Regions from separate parts of the Homo sapiens genome. Here region 2 is linked to region 1. The links come from fine-mapping of genetic effects on gene expression. Tissue or cell type: whole blood. Region 1 holds a variant in brackets; the other region holds the start of a gene. All regions are shown on one strand. Distances are between the middles of the regions.

The links. PIP is the estimated chance that this variant, and not a neighbour inherited with it, causes the effect.
Region 2: it holds the start of HNRNPLL, and the variant in region 1 is fine-mapped to the expression of HNRNPLL in whole blood (INTERVAL, PIP above 0.99).

The regions. Positions count from the first base shown.
Region 1 is chr2:38,694,794-38,702,899 of GRCh38, forward strand. All of the region lies in intron 4 of GALM (galactose mutarotase), which reads left to right. It overlaps LOC124905993 (a long non-coding RNA gene), which reads right to left. Exons shown (of 3, transcript XR_007086292.1): 2 at 2,444-2,577. Among named protein-coding and RNA genes, the nearest start is that of GALM, 33 kb to the left of the region's middle. The variant C/T (reference allele first, on the strand shown) is at 4,983.
Region 2 is chr2:38,599,346-38,607,451 of GRCh38, forward strand. It overlaps HNRNPLL (heterogeneous nuclear ribonucleoprotein L like), which reads right to left and starts at 3,583. Exons shown (of 13, transcript NM_138394.4): 1 at 3,093-3,583. The coding sequence starts at 3,281. RefSeq lists silencers at 3,303-3,402, 3,423-3,472, 3,693-3,762.

The DNA.
Region 1 (8,106 bases):
GGCTGAGGCAGGAGAATGGCGTGAACCCGGGAGGTGGAGGTTGCAGTGAGCCAAGATCGGGCCACTACACTCCAGCCTGGGCAACAGAGCAAGACTCCGTCTCAAAAAAAAAAAAAAAACAAAAAAAGAAAGGGAAAGTCAAGGGAAAGTCACCTCAGGTGTCATTGTTCTGTTGCAGCATATGGTGTTCCTGACAGATCCCTTGTCTTTCTGGTTCTTGGTTTTCTCATATGCAGAATCTTGTTATGAACAAGTTGTGTTGAAAGTTCACATTCTTTAAGTATGTATGTTGGTCATCTCTGTTGAAAATGATAGAAAAATCACCTTCGGTAGAAAATTTACAAACAGGCCGGGTGCAGTGTCTCATGCTTGTAATCCCAGCACTTCAGGAGGTGGAGGCGGTTGGATTTTTGAGCCCAAGACTTTGAGACCAGCCTTGGCAACACAGTGAAACCCCATCTCTACCAAAAATACAAAAATTAGCCAATCTCACAGCCCAGTCTCAAAATAAATAAATTAAATAAATAAATAAATAAAGTTTCAAAAAAAGAAAGCAAACTTACAGACACAGTTAAAGAAAAGCTGTACCATTTACAGGGTGGCGTTCAGCTATCTGGAGCAGTCCCTTATGGTGGGTACTTCATTTATCCTGGGGAGATGCTGGATAATGAGTTCGTTTTAGACCCTTTGCTCTACCTGGCTTTTCCTGGGGTGGCTGCTTGGTTGTGCTGAAACCCTCAGAAATCAACAGTAGAAAACTTCTCTAAAACAGCTTTGGCCTTTTTGCATATGAATGACTTTTACTGCGTAAATCAGTTATTTTGCTTACCATCCTAGTCCTCTGCTTTCCACCCCAAATCCTTGTTTATGTGTGTGTGGTTTTGTTTGTTTGCTTGTTTGTTTGCTTGTTTGTTTTTTGAGACGGAGTCTCACTCTGTTGCCCAGGCTGGAGTGCAGTGGCTCGATCTCAGCTCTCTGCAGCAACCTCCACCTCCCGGGTTCAAGTGCTTCTCCTGCCTCTGCCTCCTGAGTAGCTGGGACTACAGGCGCGCATGCCACCATACCCGGATAATTTTTGTATTTTTAGTAGAAATGGGGTTTCACCATGTTGACCAGGCTGATCTTGAACTCCTGACCTCAAGTGATCCACCCGCCTTAGCCTCCCGAAGTGCTGGGATTACAGGTGTGAGCCACCACACCCCGCCTGCGTGTTTGTTTTTTAAATCTCTCTTCTTAGGGTCATGAGATTTCTCATTAATTTCACTTAGAGCTCCTGGAGAGAAAAGCCTCTATTATTGTCACTATAACAGTAAAAAAAGTGTAGAGATTTTTTTTTTTCTTTTGAGACAGAGTTTCGCTCTTGTTGCCCAGGCTGGAGTGCAATGGCGTGATCTCAGCTCACTGCAACCTCCACCTCCCGGGTTCAAGCGATTCTCCTGCCTTGGCCTCCCAAGTAGCTGGGATTACAGGCATGTGCCACCACACCTGGCTAATTTTGTATTTTTAGTAGAGATGGGGTTTCACCATGTTGGTCAGGCTGGTCTTGAACTCCTGACCTCAGGTGATCCACCTGCCTTAGCCTCCCAAAGTGCTGGGATCACAGGCATGAGCCACTGTGTCCAGCTTTTCTTTTTCTTTTCTTTTTTTTTTTTTTTTTGAGACAGGGTCTCTTTCTGTTGCCCAAGCTGAAACAGTGACACAATCATAGCTCACTGTAACATCAAACTTCTGGGGCTCAAGCAATCCTCCTGGCTCCGCCTTCCAAATAGCTAGGATTACAGGTGCACATCACCATACCCAGGTAATTTTTTCTTTTTTTACACGAAAATGTCTCAACATGGATTTTTTTTTCTTTTTTGGCAGAGATGATGTCTCACTATGTTGCCCAGGCTGGTCTCAAACTCCCTGCCTCAAGCCATCCTTCCACTTTAGCATCCCAAAGTGCTAGGATTACAGGCGTGAGCCACCGCACCTACCCCCAAGAAAGCTTTTTTTTTTTTTTTTTTTTTTTTTTGAGACAGAGTCTTGCTCTGTCAACCAGGCTGGAGTGCAGTGGCGCGATCTCAGCTCACTGTAACCTCTGCCTCCCATGTTCAAGCAATCCTCCCGCCTCAGCCTCCCGAGTAACTAGAATTACAGGCACATGCCACCACGCCCGGCTAATTTTTGTATTTTTAGTAGAGAGGGGGTTTCACCATGTTGGCCAGGATGGTCTCGAACTCCTGACCTCAAGTGATCCACCTGCTGTGGCCTCCCAAAGTGCTGGGATTATGGGCATGAGCCACTGCACCCGGCCCCCAAGAACTCTTCAAATGCACCTAGTGTCACAAGAAAAGATAGTTAAACTGTGTCTGAAAAAGTGGCTTATGTGGGGAAATTTGTGATGGATTTAGGGAAACTTAGGGTAAATTTTAAACATAAGGCCTTTTGTCAGATCACCTACATTCCTCGGATTGTGCGTGGGTTTGTCGCAGGTGCTTGATGTGACAAATTACACAGCTTCTATTGCTTCATTTGATCAGCCGCCTGTTGACTTTCAGCCAAGTCCTGCAGGGTTGCTTCTCAGATTGTATCTTTCTGCAAGACAAAGATGTTTTCATAGTCTCTCTTTAACTTCTCCCTTTTGTGGCTATTAATTTATACTTATATGTTTTTCAACTCCTTATTTTTGTTTTCTCTTTATAAAAGTTTTAACGTGTGCTATTCTTGAGGGAAATACTGATGCATATCTAAACTTTAGGGGTGTTTTTCACCCTGGCTACAGACACTCGGTAAATAATTTTTCAGGTGATGGGAAAACACATCATCATGAGAATGTAGCAACTTTTATTTTGCAGTAACTGTTAAAATTGTGGCCACAGTGCTCAGTAAAAGGGGACCTTCCCCCTGTAGGTGTTTGGGGAGGAGTGACGTCCTGTCCTCCATTTTGTTAGTAACCCACTTATGGATGGGGCATTATCACCTAGAAAGAAAAGAGATACCATGGTATGCAGTTACAGGGAGCCAGAGCAAGAGCAAGACAAAGAAATTCCCTTACGTCTTCAATGCAGAGCCGGCATTTAGACCTCTACCCCAGGCAGGACCCACAAATCTTTGGCAGCCATGAGCACCTGTTTTGCTCCTGCCTTCTTCCTGTTGGCAATTTTGGGTTTTGGGGTTTTTTTTTTTTAGACAGAGTCTCACTCCATCACCAGGCTGGAAGTACAGTGGTGCAGTCTCGGCCCACTGCAGCCTCCGCCTTCCGGGTTCAAATGATCCTCTTGCTTCAGCCTCCCAATTAGCTGGGACTACAGGTGCGCACCACCACGGCCAGCTAATTTTTGTATTTTTAGTAGAGATGGGGTTTCACCATATTGCCCAGGCTGGTCTCAAACTCCTGACCTCAAGTGATCTGCTCACCTCAGCCTTTCAAAGTGCTGGGATTATATATATATTTTAAATAAATGAATAGAATTCATCACCTAACTTCTAAAGCTACCTCTGTAGATGAAATTCCGGCACTTAGGAGTCAGCAGTGGTGTATTGAGTGCATAGCCCTTGCTCACAGGTGCTTCTTTCCTGTCCCATGGCAGGTGGCACCAACAGAAGGTTTCTGCAAGGCTGAGAGCTCCTTTTACCCATGGACCAGGAGCAAAGTTTGCAGGTACACTGTCAGGCTGTGTTTGGATGTTAGCAGTTAATTTAGCTCTGCGTCTTCAGAGCAATTATTCTTAGCTACTTAAAAAAAAAAAAAGGAAAAAAATGACACCCATAAAGCATTTGCTGCTCCATAGGATGGGAGCACACTCTGTTGTTGGGCATATGAGTCCCTCTGGCATGTGTTTTCTATGTTTATTGTTGTCAGGGCTGTCCCTGTAATTTCCCAGAAGTAGAACTCCCTGAAGCTGTTTCCCAGAAAGGACAGGGGTGTAGATAATGGATGTCCAGAGACAGAGAACACTGCAGTGCCAGATCCCTGTGCTGCTTTGTCAGACATTTGTTTATATATTGTTTGTTTTTGAGATGGGGTCTCACTATGTTGCCCAGGCTGATCTTGAACTCCTGAGCTCTCAAGTGATCCTCCCACCTCGGCCTCCTAAAGTGCTGGGATTACAGGCATGAGCCACTGTGTCCAGCTGTTATTATTATTATTATTTTGAGACAGAGTTTTGCTCTTGTTGCCTAGGCTGGCGTGCAATGGCACATCCTCGGCTCACTGCAACCTCCGCCTCCTGGGTTCAAGCAATTCTCCTGCCTCAGCCTCCCGAGTAGCTGGGATTACAAACGCCCACCACCATGCCCAGCTAATTTTTGTATTTTTAGTAGAGACGGGGTTTCACCATGTTGGCCAGGCTGGTTTCGAACTCCTAACTTTAGGTGATCTGCCCACCTCGGCCTCTCAAAGTGCTGGGGTTACAGGCATGAGCCACCGTACCTGGCCCCAGCTGTTATTATTTTTAATTGATACCTAATACTTGATATCTAATACATATTTTATTGATACCTAATACATATTTACAGGGTACACTGGGATATTTTGATACATGTTTACAATGTATAAGGATCAAATCAGGGTAATTAGCATATCCATCACCTCAAACATTTATCATTTTTTTGTGTTGGGACATTCAAAATCTGCTGTTCTAGCTATTTGAAAATATACAATAAGTTGTTGTTAATTATAGTCACCCTATAGTGCTTTAGAGCACTAGCACTTATTCCCCCTATCTAGCTGTACTTTTATTAACATTAAACAACCTTTAGGCTGTGTGCGGTGGCTCATGCCTGTAAACCCAGCACTTTGGGAGGCCGAGGTGGACTGATCACCTGAGGTCAGGAGTTCAAGACCAGCCTGGACAACATAGCAAGAACCATCTTAAAAAAGAAAAGAGAAGAATATTTAAAATTTTCTTCACTGATCATTCAGGAGCATATTGTTTAATTTCTGTGTATTTGTACAATTTCAAAAGTTCACCTCGCTGTTGAGTTCTAGTTTTATTCCA[C/T]TGTGGTCAGGAAAGATACTCGATATAATTTCAATTATTTTAAATTTGTTGAGACTTGTTTTGTGGGCTAACATATGGTCTATTCTGGAAAATGTTTCTTGTGCTGATGAAATAATGTGTTTTCTGAATCTGTTGGATGAAATGTTCTGTAAATGTCTCTTTGTTAGTCTAAAATGCAGGGTTTTTTGTTTTTTTGAGAGAGTCTCACTCTGTTGCCCAGGCTGGGAGTGCAGTAGCATGATCTTGACTCACTGCAACCTCCACTTCCCAGGTTCAAGCAATTCTCGTGCCTCAGCCTGCCAAGTAGCTGGGATTACAGGTGCCCGCCACCACACCCAGCTAATTTTTGTATTTTTAGTAGAGACAGGGTTTTACCATGTTGACCAGGCTGGTTTTAAACTCCTGGCCTCAAGTGATCCGCCCACCTCAGCCTCCCAACGTACTAGGATAACAGATGTGAACCACCGCGCTCAGCCTAAAGTGCAGTTTAAATCTAGTGTTTTGTTGTTGATTTTCTGTCTAGATGATCTGTTCAGTGCAGAGAATGGGGTGTTGAATTCCCCAGCTATTGTATTGGTGTCTATGTCTCCCTTTAGATCTAATAATATTTGCTTTATATTATGTATCTGGGCGCTCCAGTGTTGGGTGCATATATATTTAGAATTGTTACCTCCTCTTACTGAATTGATCCCTTTATCATTATATAATAACCTTTTTCTTTTTTTTAATCGTTTTTTACTTGACGTCTGTTTCATCTGATACAAGTACAGCTACCCTGCTTGCTTTTGGTTTCTGTTTGCATGGAATATCTTTTTCCACCCTTTCAGTCTATGTGTGTCGTTACAGATGAAGTGAGTTTCTTGTAGGCAACCGTAGTTGGGCCATGTTTTTTAATCCATTCAGCCAGTCTATATATTTTAAGGGGGGAAGTTTAATAAGTTTACATTCAAGATTATTATTGATAGGTGAGGACTTCTGTCATTTTGTTAATTATTTTCTGTTTTTTTAAATATATCCTTTGTTCCTTTCTTCCCCTCTTATTGTTCATCCTTGTGATTGGTGGTTTTCTGTAGTGGTAAAATTTGATTCTTTTCTCTTTCTCCTTTGTGTATGTGCTCTACCAGTGAGTTTTCTACTTTTTTGTGTTTTCTTGATAGTAATTATCATTTCACTTCCAGATGTGGGACTCCCTTGAGCATTTCTTATAAGGCTGGTCTAGTGGTGATGAATTCTGTCAGTTTTTATTTGTCTGAGACATGTCAGGCATTTAGCTTCAGGACCTGATTCTAGTTCCCTGCCCTGTGGCAACAAGTAGAAACAGATCCCTGGTACCCTGCTTAAGTATTACACCAGCTAGATGTGAGCAGATGAGAAAATCAAATCCTTCTATTTTGCCAGGGATTAATTCATTCTCAGGATTGTAAATATTACATTTCACCTTTCACCTCACAGAACTGTAGAATTAGGAGGTGAGCTGGGCAGCCTGCCCAGCAAGACATTATGATGTATACAATACAGTGCACTACTAAGGATGTGTCTTTAAAGGCATTTACAGCACACAGTTTTTTTTTTCCTTATAATTTTGCTGCTCTTTATTTGTAGTAGTAGATAAGGAATTAAGAAAGCAAAAATGAGTGCTTTGACTAGGTCTTTTGCCTTTGAAAGTAGCATTAGTAAAATCCCCTCTTCTTTTTTATTCTTATAAAATTTACCCAATTCACTCTGTCCCCCAGCCCATCTGTGTTCACTTGCTGTTCTTGCTGCTCTCAGTTTTTAAAAGCTTATTCTAAAATTACATCAAAGCAACCCCATTTTGACAAAATTAGAATTCTGGTAGGAAACGCTTGCCATGAGGCTGTGGAGAGAGGCCCAGCAAGACTTTTGTATTTTATTTCAACCTCTGTCGGTTAAACCTACAATTCGGCAGATGATATAATTACCTCCCTGGGGCAGGTCTCTATCTCTGCCTTGGAGAAATAGCAAAGTCCAAAGTAGTCTCCTCATTCAAAGATGTTGCAAACGAAGGCTGTTTTGATCTTTATGTATTAGCATTTGGGTGTTAATCTTTCTGGAGCTCCTGACAGAAAATTCCTTTAAATTTATTATATAATTCTAAAATATTGGACATATTTGTTTCAAGCATCTGTCAGTATCCTTACTCTTTCCATTTCACTCCCCACTGCCTTAATTAGTCATCAGGTCCTACTGATTTTTAACTCCTAAGCATTTCTCAAATCTGTCTCCTCAGTATGTATTGTTGGTTATATAACTCCATCTCCATTTTCACTGTGCTGCTTTAGACTATCTTTTCTTGTCTAGATTAGTGCCTGGCTTATATTATGGGCTTCATAAAGTGGGATCAATGAATGAATGATTCATAATCTGGACAACTGCACTCTAACACCTAACTGGAAAAAAAAAAATCTTAAGATCTATCTTCCATGTAAAAGCATCTATCTAAAATGCAAATCTTACTTTGATAATCTCCAGGTTAATAAACCTCTTAGACGGCTCTCAGGCCTCCCCAAAACCATCTCTCATTTCACTGATCAAAAAAATAAAAATTTAAAAATTTTAAAACTTAAAAAAAAAATTGAACATTTCACTGGTCAAAAAACAAAAACAAAAATGATCTCCGAGCATGCCTCCCTCACACCCCACCCTGCTGTGCATCCCTTTCCCACCCCCAGCCTACAGAGACCACCCAATAACCTCTTCTTTGCTACATGACCCTTACCCTCCTTCTTCAAGAGTCATACTTTCTCCTTAGAAACTTTTCCCCCCACTTTCTGGAAACTGTAGATTCTTTCTTGCTTATGGTTTTTGTAATGACATCAGCCATTTAGAATTCATGATGTGGCCAGTCTCTGCTATCTGCCTCTCCACAGAGCTTGCTCAGATAATCCATCAGGATTTAGTCACAGATCCAAAGTAGGGAGCTAGAAGGGAGCTTCAGGCTTGGTCTCTTCGGGTTGAAGCTAGAAAACTAATCTATACTGAACACAAAAATGAAGCTGAGTAATAGCCAACCTATACATCCTAGGAATTAACTATTGCTTATTTTGCCCCCAGCCAGTCTCTCCACACTCCTCTCTCCTTTACATTTGTTTTAAACACTATATAT
Region 2 (8,106 bases), 95 kb before region 1:
TTCCTCAAGTGGTTTTCCCAAGTGAAGCCTTAATATTTCCAAGTCAAGCTGCCTTCTTAAAAGAAGATACAGAAACTTAATATGATCTTGAAGGTCATGCCTATTAAATTTAAGAACACTACTCCACAAGAAAAAAGTAACTGTATAATATGTGGCAGGAACCTCTATAATCAAGCCTTATTCAACAATGCAGCTCAGTGAATGTGAAAAACCCTAGGAGTTTTTTGCTCTATTAAAAAAAGGTACCAGAAGACACAAATTTGAAGGGTGTTTTATTTCTCATATCCAAAGTATTAACTCTTCTCTCATTTCTCTTTGTACCTTCAACATAATGATCACTCACAATTATCCATTCATTTCTAAGTTAAGAGCCTTTGTAGAACCACTATGTTTTTCTTAAATACTCACTTTCCTCTTTAAATGTAGTCAATATATTATCAAAGCACTCAAGGTTAATCATAAAAAACCAAGCAATGTAAATCTTCAAAGGCTTACTTTGCACTTTACAAACTTCCAACTAGAGTTGAAAAGAATGCCATCATTGTACCTAACCTGCATTTACTTTAACAGTCTGACCACAAAGGTATTTCTTCTCTGGGCTGAAGGACCACTGAAGTTGTGCAAAACCCTTTTCGGTTACAATGAATTACCAAACATGTGAACGAAGAAGCACAAGACAGTAAACTTCTATCCGGGGAACGTCTATCCTAATAATAGAATTTTATTATGTACAGGTTTCCATAGTTGCCATGATTTCAAAATAGTACCAAAAATTACATGAAAAATATTTAAAAACAAGATAAACAAGGCTTCATTAGATTTCATAGTACAATGATGGTTTTACTGTTAAATGAAAACAATTCACCCTTTCCTAGGAAACATATCAGCAGTAAGATAAACAAAAAAATTAAAATTTATACCTCAATCTGCTTATATCAGTTCCCGCCGGGGTAACTTAAAAGCAGCATTAGCATTACGTTAATCACTTAACTATAGCTTCGGTTAAAAAAGGCATGTGTTTCAACCTTCATATTTTACAGACTAAGAGAACTCAGAGTAGTAAACTGACTTTCTCAGACTCACACAAATTGTATGCTAAGACCAGGTGCGGTGGCTCACGGCTGTAATCCCAGCACTTTGGGAGGCCAACTCAGGTGGATCTCTTGAGCCCAGGAGTTAAGAGACTAGCTTTGGCAATATGGTGAAACCCCTTCTCTACAAAACACAGAAAAAAAAAATTGGCCCGGCGTGGTGATGCAGGCTTCCAGTCCCAGCAACCCGGGAGGCTGAGGTAGGAGGATCGCTTGAGACAGGGAGATCAAGGCTGCAGTGAGCCGTGATCACGAGCTGCTGCACTCCAGAGCTGCTGCACTCCAGCCCCGGGCCATAGAGTGAGATCCTCTCAAAAAAAAAAAAAAATTGTATGCTAAGCCTAGACTCTTGACCACCCCCAAGCCCTACTCAGTGCCATTTCCACCGCTCCACACATTTCGCTTTGGATACATTAATTATATGTTATTTTCTTCCCAACATCCAAAATAATACTATTGATTTAATGCTTTATCTGTTTTCAAAAACAAATTTTTATAATCTGATTTAAGTATCTTTCCAAAATGCCTGAAGACATTTCATGATGCTGCACAAAAACCCAAGCAAGATTTCTAGCAACGAGGTACACTGATCGAATACATCGAAATATCAGTTATAATATTCCTGTTTCCAATTTCCACAACAGAGTTGGCTTTGAACTGAAACTTCCTAAGAAAAAACCATTTCCTTTATTCACACTTCCAAGTTACATTTTGAATATTTCAAATAGCTCGGCACAAAAATCTAAAGTAATAGCTAACACCGTAACAAGACTGAGAGAAAAAGTTCCTTTTTTAAATGTGTTGCAAAGTTTGCTCTCACATCCTGGTAACTGGAAACTGCAACGCTGGGTGACTGACCAGCCTTTTTTTTTATTATTTAAAAATTCAAACGGCTATAAAGGGCTTCTAATGTGCGTCTTATTTTTAAAAGGTAAGGTAAAAACCCTTTTAACCTAATAGTAGGATATATGTGTACAGTTTCGTAATTCTGTTAAAGTTTGCAGAATTAATCACAATTCATGTGTTAAATGTTTAAATAACATCTAAGTCATTAAAACCGCTTAAGTGCACCAAAAAAGGGCAATAACGTTTGCTCCGCTTTGTTTCCTTAAAGTCTCCATCCAACTGAAGCTAACTACTTGCTGTGGACAAAATGATCACATTCCTTCTGCCTCCCCCTAACATTTCTGGTAAGAGAAAGACCTGGCTCTAGGAATGTGTGTTTAATGCAACCCTGAGCTCACTTCATCCTTTCATGGGGCAAATGTGGAATAAATTACCAATGAAAAACTTTAGTAATTTTAAGATTTGTTTTACTTGAAGGTAGGGGTGTACCAACAGCTGCCAACACTTCTGTTGAAGTGTTGTAACCGAAGAGGTAAAAAGTGTACTGAGTAATCCACAAAATTGGGTAGAGCAAAGGATGCACGCCATGCTTATAAAGAGTTTAATTTTAAAATTTTTTAAATTAAACCTTCAAGGGAACTAGCATGTGAACGCCAAGGCATAATCTGTTATTTAATTACGGGTCTCCATAGGACCGAGGCGGAGAGAGCTCCCGGTAGAACCGACGCAACCATCCCGGGATGGTGACCAACGCGCGGCTGCTGCGGGCAGAGGGACTGAAGAGAACCGGTGGTCCCGACGCTGGCCCCGAGCCCGAGGAGTTAAACTAACAAAGAGCTCCCCGAGCCGCGAAACCCCCCAGAGCGGAAGCGACGCCTCCCCGCCGCCGCCGCCGCGCCGCGACCCTCCCCAAGTTCAGGGCCCGGCAGTGGACTCGCTGCGGGGCCTGCGGCCAGGACGGCGCCGGGTTCGCAGTCGGGATGCGGGAAACAGGTAGAGGCCAGAATACGAGCCCCAAAGAGAAGAGTGGGCGCTTCCCCAAACGGGTCGGCGCAGCGGAAAAGGCTAACTGAAGCAAGCGGGAGGCCCCGCACCGAGGCCCTGCTTCCCGGGGAGCAGCCAGGCACAGCGGACAGGGGGGCCGCGCTTTGTTACCGGCTGAGAGAAGCTCCGGCCGCCGCCGCCGCCATCGCCCCCGCCCCGGGGCGTCGCTTCCCGGCGGTTCTCGCCTTCCTCGGCCGAGTAGTCGATCTCCCCCTCCTCGGTCTTGAGACGCTTGGCCTGGCTCTCGTACTCCCGGTCCTCCTCGTACGTCTCCCTGGGGGAGGAAGAGGAGGAGGACATGGCGGCGGCCGGAGGGACCGGCTGGCAGGCGGGTGGGGGTGGCGGTGGGGCGCGCGCCTCGGATGCCGCCGGCCAGTCCTCGCCGCCGGCAGCGCCTCTTCTGCGAGGGTCTCCGCGGCCCGGCCGTCCGCGGGGACTGCGCGGCCAGGAGACTGGCGGCTGAGAAGCGCGGACGGACTGAGGGGGGCGCCCCGGGAGGAAGCTCTGGAGCGGCCGCTCCTCTCAATTACCGAGCCAACATTCAGCCTCTCCCTCCTCCTCCTCCGTCTCCGCTCCCTGCCCGGAGGAGCGAATCTAAGGATGGGGACGCAACCGTGGCTTCCGGTCTTCCCTCCTCCCCTAAGCCGCTCCCAGCCGCGCAGGCCGAGCCTCCGCCCCCGCCTTCGCGGCCGTCGCGCAGGATCGAATCCAGCCGCAGCCTGCGGGAAGCGCCCCCCCCGGCCCGGGTTCTGCTCCCTATTGGCAGGGGCGGGAAAGTCGACCGGGCTTCCCATTGGCTGTGAGGGCCGTTCGTCAAAAGCCGCCCGCTGCTCGACCTCACTTCTCTCCCCGCGCCTTCTGAACTCGCCGCGGTCCTGGGAGGCCCGGCGCGCAAGGCGCGCCGCCTGGGAGTAGTTGCGACCCGCAACCGTTGGCGCTATGCGGCTCCTACCCGAGGCCAGGCGTGGAGTGAACACGGACGAGCGACGAGAAGTGCGGAGAGGCTAGGGCTGCGGGTGTTAACCGCCCTGCCGCTAATTTAAATGCTTTTTATCACCTCTTAAAAAGAGAATGAGGAAAAAAACCTCTAAAATCCCTGCAGTCATACCCCCCGAAAAGCCCTAAAATTGCAGGCGATGAAGGGAGAAAACGGCTTGGAGCCATGAGAATGGTCTTTCCACTGTTTTGTGTGCAAAATCTGGTAGAAGTGGGCGGACCCTCCCGCCCCTAGCTGGGTGTTGGAGAACAGCTGTCAGCATTGACTGAAGGCTGCGAGGCGCGCGTCGGCAGGAGGCGCTGCACGCGGGCGCTCGTCGGTCTGATCGGTTATAACTCGTTTGTAACCTGGGCCCTTTACTGACTTGCCTGTCCCTGTAAGTCCCTGCTCCAGTTAAATATGTTTTAATCCTTCCATATAAAATCTCATCCTCCATCCCAATTCTTTCTCTTCTGGACAATGTATTTACTTCACTTGATCATTTATTGTCGAAAGATACAAAAGCCTTTCAAAGTTCTGTGATCACAGCTTGCTTCCTCTGTGGTGTCCTGAGGGCTTTTCCAAGATTTTAGTTGCTGCTCTCTTTTTGCAACAGGGCCCCTTATAACTCCCTCTTAAGATGTTCTGTTTTAAAAACTCTGTGAGCGCCTGAAGACAGGAACTGTGTGCAATTTTCATTTTCGCAAGCCCAGTTCCTGTGCGATCTCCAGCACAATTTAGGTGCTCAACAATGCTGAATGAGTAGTCCTTGGGAAATAAAGGTCCAGTGTATCTTTCAGGACAGAAACTGGCAAATCAAGGCAACCTAACTGCCCTCTGTCAGGTGCCTCTTGGAGGACTGCCTGAGATCAAGAGCCTCTTGTGTTTCTGTTGTCCTTGTCCCTCGGATGCTTTCCTAGATGTGGCTCTTCCTTTCCTAAGAGTGTAGATTGCTTCCTCCTCCAGCCTAGTTCTCTCCAAAGTTATTTCCTCCTCCAAAAAAGCTATTTTTATTTATTGCTGAGAGTGCTTTAACATAACACTTTTGTACTTTGTAAATTACACCGGCTGTCATTTTGGAATCTAATTGCAAGATTTTCCACACTATGCAGCTATAATCAAATGTGTGTGCGGCTGCAGGTATACATTGACAAAACAGAACTAAAAAAATTATAAATTTATTTTTTAAATTAAAATGGAAGTCGACAGAAGAAATAGCAAAAGAGTGGCAGAGCTGGCTGCGGATGAGAAAATGTCATTGGCAAAAAGCTCTGCAATGGTTTGGGAAAGTAAAATAGCAACAAGGGAAACAATGATACAATTCTGCTTAAAATATGTCCTATGGATTCATATGTCCCCTAACATATTCAGAATGCAGACATTACCTGGCCTTCAGAAAGCTGAAGATACCAAGGGTCAAAAAAAAGGTCTAACAAACCTACTTCACGTGTTATCTTTAGCATCCATTGTCCTTTTTATAGCAGTCTCAGTATCAAAGATCAGGAAAGGATGAGTGAATTAATAAACTTGATACAAAGGAAACTTCTTTGATGAGGTGAGATGGGCCATTCTCAAGATATTTTTAGTTTGCTCAAATTAAAAGAGAAGAGCTGAGAGCTTAAAACAATTATTTTTTAGGAGAAAGAAAACAATAGAATATTATGTGAAATAATTGAGTGTGATGAGAAGCACTAAATATCTTTTTGTTAAGTATGAGCAACTACCTGTTAATTTTGTTTTATGTACATTTTCATATGCTAGGTGAATTTAGTTTGGTAAATTCTATTCACTCACAACTGGATTTACTAGGCCTTATACAAACTTTCCAAATATTTCTTGTGAAGATGCAAATATTTTAAATTCTCAAAGCCCTGCATTCAACCTATGGATTATACCACATTACAATGCAACTGTCACACCAATGGGTAAGGAAATCCAGCCTTGCCAAACCTAGGGCTGCTGTGCTCAGCGTTCACAAACAGCAGGTGGAATTCAATATGTACCAGTATTAAACTTTGTTCTTTTTGTAAGTAGCCCAGTTGAGTAAAAAAAAAAATATTGAGGGAGTAAAACTTAGAAAGCATTTTTAAAGGACACCAATCAGTTCGTTAACCATGGGTGAAATGCGAGCTTGTTGCAGATGAGTTGTTCAGACAGTGACAGTAGGTCCTTTGATAAGGAAAATACTAGCTAGCTCATCACCAGGGCATGAGGAGCTAAAGAGAGAGGACATAAATTATACTCTACATTATTTCACTTAGGTGAGACAAAGAAATTACACACTGCCCAGTAGCCAGAAATACCTAAGAAAAGCAGAAACAGCTCCTAAATGCCATGACTGTCTGGAACCTCTCATGCATTACGGCCTCAGACCTTTGACTATTTTCTGAACATTTGATTGAATTCGCTGCTGTCAAGTAGGCAGCAGCCAAGAGCTCCCATTGCCACAGCTCAAAGGGGACTCCAGCTATACTGGAGTAGGAGACAGGCTTAGGGCAGGCCTAGGGAAATTGAGAGTCAAGGGCCTTTATAATCAATCCAGCCTCAAATTGCCCTTTAGTTTTAAATCTCGTTACTGATCTATAAAATTTATAAGACATTGTGCTAGGTGATGAGAGGACTACGTGAGCTGGTCCCTGCCCTCTCAAAGCTTGCAATCAAGTTGTGGAAACAAGGCTCATACCCAAGAGATAGGCTACAAGCATCCATATGTAATAATACATATACAATAATTAATAGCCACATTTAATGTGCCAGTCACTGTGCTAACCACTGAAAGGGTTTTGTCAATAAATTCTGACAGAAGCCTTCTACCAGAGGCATTATTATTACTCTTCCCAGTATACAATTAAAGAAACAGTCTAGGGGAGATTAAGAAACCTGCCTTAGGCTGGGCACAGAGGGAGGCAGAGGCACACAGATCACTTGAGCCCAGGAGTTTGAGACCAGCCTAGGCAACGTGGCAAGACCCTGTTTCCACAAAAATTGTAAAAATTAGCCTGGAATGGTGGTGCGTGCCTGTAATCCCAGCCACTCAGGAGGATGAGGTGGGAGGATTGCCTGAGCCCAGGGAGGTCCAGGCTACAGTGAGCCGTGACTGCACCACTACACTCTAGCCTGGGTGTTGGAGTGAAACCCTGTTTCAAAAAAAAGAAAAGAAAAAAAAGGAAACCTGCCCTAGAGCTGCAGTTAATAAATTGAAAAGCCAGGACTGGAACCCAAGCAATCGGGTTCCAGAGCCAGTACTCGTCATCAGAAGACTGATGATTTAATTATTGTGTTATTTATTACCATGGACATACAGATCTAATTTATAGTCACTTATTATATAATGATGCTAATTCATTCACTGATTTCTCCTTTTTATTTATTTCTTTATTTGAGACAGGATCTCACTCTGCTGCCCAGGCTGTGGAGTGCAGTAGCGCAATCATAGCTCACTGTAGCATCTACCTCCTGGGCTCAAGCAATCCTCCCAACCCCAGCCTCCCAAGTAGCTGGGACCACAGGCACATACCACCACACCCAGCTATTTTTTGTTGTTGTTGTTGGTAGAGACGGGAGTCTCACCATATTGCCCAGGCTGGTCTCAAACTCCTGGGCTCAAAAGATCCTCCTGCCTTAGCTTCCCAAAGCATTGGGATCACAGGCATGAGCCACTGAACTCAGCTTCATTCACTAATTTATACCTGGGTTTATGTAGCTATAATCCTGGGAAGGATTGAATACGTTATAGTTTTCATCATTTGCATTTGTATAAGGAAATTCAATTTACTTCCACAGGAAATTACAAATATAATGCACTGTTTTAGTGTTAATTTTTTACTTTTTTTATTTTTATTTTTTTAGACAGGGTCTTGCTCTGTCACCCAGGCTGGAGTGCAGTGGCATGATCTAGGCTCACTGCAACCTCCGCCTCCTGATTCTTGTGCCTCAGGCTCCCAAGTAGCTAGGATTACAGGCTTGTGCCACCATGTCTGGTTAATTTTTGTACTTTTAGTAGAGATGGGGTTTCACCATGTCGGCCAGACTGGTTGTGAACTCCTGGCCTCATGCAATGCACCCACCTCAGCCTCCCAAAGTGCTGGGATTACAGGCATGAGCCACTGTGCCTAGCCTTCAACTTAATTTCTGTAGAAAAAGCCCAGA